Regions from separate parts of the Homo sapiens genome. Here region 2 is linked to region 1. A link means that fine-mapping ties the variant in region 1 to the expression of a gene that starts in the linked region. Tissue or cell type: CD4 T cells. Region 1 holds a variant in brackets; the other region holds the start of a gene. All regions are shown on one strand. Distances are from middle to middle.

What was found. PIP is the estimated chance that this variant, and not a neighbour inherited with it, causes the effect.
Region 2: it holds the start of SCART1, and the variant in region 1 is fine-mapped to the expression of SCART1 in CD4 T cells (BLUEPRINT, PIP 0.94).

The regions. Positions count from the first base shown.
Region 1 is chr10:133,409,837-133,412,515 of GRCh38, forward strand. The region is part of intron 9 of MTG1 (mitochondrial ribosome associated GTPase 1); the gene reads left to right. Among named protein-coding and RNA genes, the nearest start is that of SPRN, 13 kb to the right of the region's middle. The variant A/G (reference allele first, on the strand shown) is at 1,620.
Region 2 is chr10:133,452,822-133,455,500 of GRCh38, forward strand. It overlaps SCART1 (scavenger receptor family member expressed on T cells 1), which reads left to right and starts at 1,124. Exons shown (of 12, transcript NM_001396050.1): 1 at 1,124-1,243. The coding sequence starts at 1,177. RefSeq lists an enhancer at 849-898.

The DNA.
Region 1 (2,679 bases):
GCTCTTTATACAGTCTTTGACTTTTAGTCTGTTCTGTCATCTGTAAGTATAGCTATTCCTGCTCTTTTTTTTTTTTTTTGGTTTCTGTTTACATGGAATATGTTTTTCCACCCTTTGACTTTCAGTCTGCGTATGTCTTTATAGGTAAAGTCGGTTTCTTATAGGTAGCATATAGTTTGATCTTGTTTTTTATCCATTTAGCCACTCTGTGTTTTTTGCTTGTTTTTGAGACAGGGTCTCACTCTGTTGCCCAGGCTGGTGTGCAGTGGTGTGATCATAGCTCACTGTAGCCTTGAACTCCTGGGCTCAAGCAGTCTTCCCACCGCAGCCTCCTGATAGTTAGGACTACAGGCGTGTGCCACCACACCTGGCTGTTTTATTTATTTATTTATTTATTTTTTGTAGAGGCGAGGTCTTGCTATGTTGCTGAGGCTGGTCTTGAACTCTTGGCCTCAGATGATCTTTCCACATTGGCCTCCCAAAGCGCTGGGATTACAAATGTGAGCCACTGTGCCTGGCCTACTCTATGTCTTTTAGTTGGAGAATATAGTACATTTGCTTTCAATATTATTATGGATAAAGACTTAATATTGCCATTTTGTTGCTTGTTTTCTGATTGTAACTCCTCTCTTCCTTTTTTACTGTCTTCCTTCGCATGTGGTTAAGAGATTTTCTCTGTTGGTATGTTTTAATTTGTTGCTTTGTATTTTTAGTCTATGTATTATATGTAGTGTACCATCAGGCTTACAAAAAGCATTTTATATTTATAACAAGTTATTTAGTTATTTTAGCTGGGCGTGGTGCTCTGTGACTGTACCCTAGGTACTCAGGAGGCTGAGATAGGAGGATTGCTGGAGCCCAGGAGTTTGAGGCTGCAGTGAGCTATGATCGTGCCATCGCACTTCAGCCTGGGTGACAGAGTGAGACCCCTCTCTTAAAAAACAATCATTTTAAACACATGACACCTTATCTGTGATCACAGAGGAAAGAATAGAAACAAAGGAGAAACTGAAGAATTCTGTACTTTAACTGCATCTTTCCCCCAAATTTTCACGTTTTCTTATTTCAATTTATTTTTTTTTATATTGGCTCTCTCTTTCCAGGTTGCTGTAGTTATTATTTTTGATACATTTTTCTTTTAGTCTTCACACTAGAGATGTGAATGAATGCACACCACATTCACAGTATTATTCTGAGTCTGTGTGTTTACTTTTGCCAGTGGGTTTTATACTTCACATGTTTTCTTTTTGTACATTAGTGTCTTTTTCTTTCAGATTGAAGAACTTTTTTTTAGCATTTCTTGAAAGTTGGGTCTGATGAATTCCCTCAGCTTTACTCTTTCATGTTTGAAGGTGTGTCCTCAGTTGACAGTTGCATTTTTTTTTCCTTCAGCACTTTGAATATATCATCCCATTGCCTCCTGGCCTATATGGATTTCCTGGAGAAGTCTGTTGCCAGTTACATTGGAGCTCTTTTATAAATATATTTGCTGCTTTTCTCTTACTACTTGTACTACTTACTGCTTGTAGGATTCTTTCTTTGTCCTTGACTTTTGAGAGTTTGATTATTATATTCTGTAGGGTAGTTTTATTTGGGTTAAATCTGTTTGGTGATCTCTG[A/G]CCTCCCTGTACCTGGACATTTATGTCTTTCTGAGGGTTTGAAAATTTTTCTGTAATTATTTCTTTGAATAAACTTTCTGTGCCTTCCTCTTGCTCGGTTCCTTCTTGAACCCCAGTAATTCCTAGGTTTGCTCCTCTGAGGCAGTTTTCTGTATCTTGCATGTGTTCTTCATTCCTTTTCATTCTTCTTTTTTCTCTTTCCTCTTCTATATGTTTTCAAATAGCCAGTCTTCAGGCTCACTGATTTTTTCCTCTGCTTGGTCCATTCTGCTGTTGAGAGCCTCTAATATATTTTTCAGCAAATGTATTTTTTACTTCCAGGATTTCTGTTTGATTTTTTTTTTTTAATTTCAATCTCTGTTAAATTTGTCTGACAAATTTGTGAGTTGTTTTTCTGTGTTTTATTGGAGTTTGCTGAGTTTTTTTTTAACTGTTACCTTGAATTCTTGATTTGAGCGCTTACACGTTGCCATCTCATTAGGGTTGGCCACTGGCTCTTTGCTTTGTCTGTTTGAGAAGGTCGCGGTTTTCCGTTAGCTGTTGTTTCTTGTGCACATATGTCTGTGGTTTTGCATTGAAGGATTTGTTATCCAGGCTTTCCTGTCTGGCTTTTTTTTTCTTGGATGTTTGCTTAGAGGTTTTTTGCAGCTTACTTTCTGCCTGGAGTTTTTTTCACTTCTCTGGTCTCATCCTCAGATTTGAGTTCTGGAATATTGCTGGTGATATTCTTGGCACTGGATGTTTGGTTTTGGTTTTCTTTGAGAGGGTGAGGGAAGCCAGATTGCTTCTACTTCTCTATTTGGTGATGTCATTCCCTCTATTAACTCTTCGCTATTTTTGATACTATTGTAAATGGTATTGTTTTTATGTTCACTTTTGATTTTTCATTGCTAGTATACAGAAGTAGAATTGATTTTTGTATATTGATCTTGTATCTTGTAACCCTGCTAAACTCATTTATTCATTCTATTAGCTCTTTGTAGATTCCAGTTAGATTTTTTACCTAGACAATTATGTCATTTGCAAATAAAGATCATCTTACTTTTTCTTTTCCAGTCCA
Region 2 (2,679 bases), 43 kb after region 1:
CTTTCTCAAAGCAGTTGCACCATTTTTGAATCTACCAGCAAAATCTGAGAGGTCCCATTTCTCTACATCCTTACCACTGTTTCATTTTGTTTTTAAGACAAAGTCTTGCTCTGTCACCCAGGCTGGAGTGCAGTGGTGCAATCTCAGCTCACTGCAACCTCCGCCTCTTGGGCTCACGCCATTCTCATGCCTCAGCCTCCCGAGTAGCTGGGACTACAGGTGCATGTCACCCTGCCCGGCTAATTTTTGTATTTTTAGTAGAGACAGGGTTTCACCATGTTGGCCAGGGTGGTCTCGAACTCCTGACCTCAGGTATCTGCCCACCTCAGCCTCCCAAAGTGCTAGGATTACAGGCGTGAGCCACTGCGCCTAGCCTGTTCCATTTTTATAACTTCTATTTCTTTGCTGAGATTTCAATTTTTCCACTTATTTCAAGAGCATTTGCAATTTGTTGTGGAAACATTTTTATGATGCCTGTTTTAAAATCCTTGTCAGATAATTCTGACACCTGACTCTTCCTGGTGCCGCCCTTAGTTGGTTGTCTCTTACTGAAATGGTCGTGTCCCTGGGTCTTCATATGATGAGTGATTCTTAACTGTATCTTCTCTCAAGGGTTTTCATTCCAACGACAGTTCAGTTCTCAGAGTTCTTGCAAAGCTCTTCCGTGTCATTCTTCTGGTGCTGCTGGGACTCCCACTCAAACCCTAATCCTACCCCTACCCCTAACTCTGCTAGTGCCATCTGCTGGCACAGAGGACGCCTCCTTGGCTGTCTGGGGCCACTGCCTTCTGTGGTGGTGGCATGGCTGAAGCCGACGGGCCCGGGTGGAGGGCAGAGACGCAGGGCTTCACTGATGCTGTGCTGTGGGCAGGTTGGACCATCTCTGCCTGATGGTTGGGTCTAGTCCCATCAGCAGCTTGATCAGTGTGGGAGGAAACCCACAGCCTGCACCCTCCCCATGTCTGGTGATGCTCAGGCCAGCAAGGCATTGGCTGCTCTGCTCACGGCTGAGAGGCAGAGCTGCTGATTCGCTCTGGAAAGGCTGTGGCTGTCCCCATTGGACCCTGGAGGTCCTTGGCAGCTCCCACTTCTGTATATGTGACTCTGGGCTGTGACCTCTGCCATTGCCCCAGCTAAGCAGCGAGAGCTTGCTGAAGCCCAGAGGGCTGTGGGACCATGAGGGCAGCTCTCTGGACCCTGGGACTCGGGCCCCTTCTTCTGAATCTCTGGGCAGTCCCCATTGGTAAGTTTCTGCTTCCTTCATCCATGGAACTTTCTGGAGGCATCAGCTCTGTTGATGCCCAGGCCCCGGGGCATGAGGGTCCCTGCAGTGACCTGCCGTCTGCCTGGGTCTCACTCAGCCCAGAGTGGGTGGGACATGCTGGGGCAGGAGGGAGGTGACTCCACATGGCTGGATCCCTGTGACCTCAGGGCCCCCAGACCCTAGCCCCACTGCTTGGAACCCAGGGTTCAGGGCTGGGTCAGGCCCTGGACAAAATGAGGGACACGGCCCAGTGTCTGGTCCCAATGACCCTGATCAACAGAGTCCTGAGGGGTCCTGCGGGGGCTGCTCCATCCACGTGCCCTGGAGCAGGGCTGAGGTCCTGGGAAGGAGGTGGGAGGGTTGGCTGCATCTGGCAGTGAGGTTGAGCATGGGGTCCCATGGAGATGCTGCACCCAGGTGGAGACACTGGGGTGTGAAGCCATGTGGAAGGGCTGCTGGGTCAGGGGCAGGGAGGTGTAGAGAGGGGGGTCTAGCTAGAAGGAACAGCAGGAGAGGCTGGAGGTGAGAGGGAGCCCCGGGGACCTGCGTACGTGGGCATGGAGCCATGATGTGAGTGTGGGGCTGGGCGGGAGGCAGGGGAGGGTGCCCTTGAGGCTGAGGAACACTTCACTGTCAAGGCTGGTCCAGGTGCCCAGCAGGGCGGTGACCTGGTGCTGGACGGAGCCACATCCCCAGCGGTGGGGTGGAAGTCTGTGGGCAGCTGCAGAAAGTGCAGAGGAGGTTAGGATTTGAAGGAAAGGCAGCAATGTGGCCACAGATGGATGGAAGCCTGGGGTTGAAGGGATTTGCTTTTGTGTCAACGATCGCATGCACAAGGGCCGGAATTCTCTATTACAACAAGAAATAGCTTTAGAAAATATAAAATGAAAAGCTATTCATAGCGGGCGTGGTGGCTTATGGCTGTAATCCCAGCACTTTGGGAGGCTGAGGCAGGCAGTTTACCTGAGGTCATGAGTTCGAGATCAGCCTGGCCAACATGGTGAAACCCCATCTCTACTAAAAATACAAAAATTAGCCAGTCGTGGTAGTGGGCGCCTATAATTCCCGCTACATGGGAGGCTGAGGCACGAGAATCAGTTCAACCCTGGAGGTGGACATTGCAGTGAGCTGAGATCGTGCCATTGCACTCCAGCCTGAGTGACAGAGCGAGACTTTTGTCTAAAAAAGAAAAAATTGCAGACACCAGCACGCATCCATGTCCTGAGAAGAACCAGGTGGGGAGGGTGATGAGGAGGCTGGGGGGTGTGGAGGGATGGATGAAGACTGAGAGAGAGGAGATTCAAGGCTCCCCAGGAGGTGGGAGGGAAAGGTCTTCATCTTGGACCAGGCAGGGTCCCCCCTCTGCTCCTGACTGCCATCGGGGAGGCTCTTTTCTGGGTGTGGAGAGTCCTCCA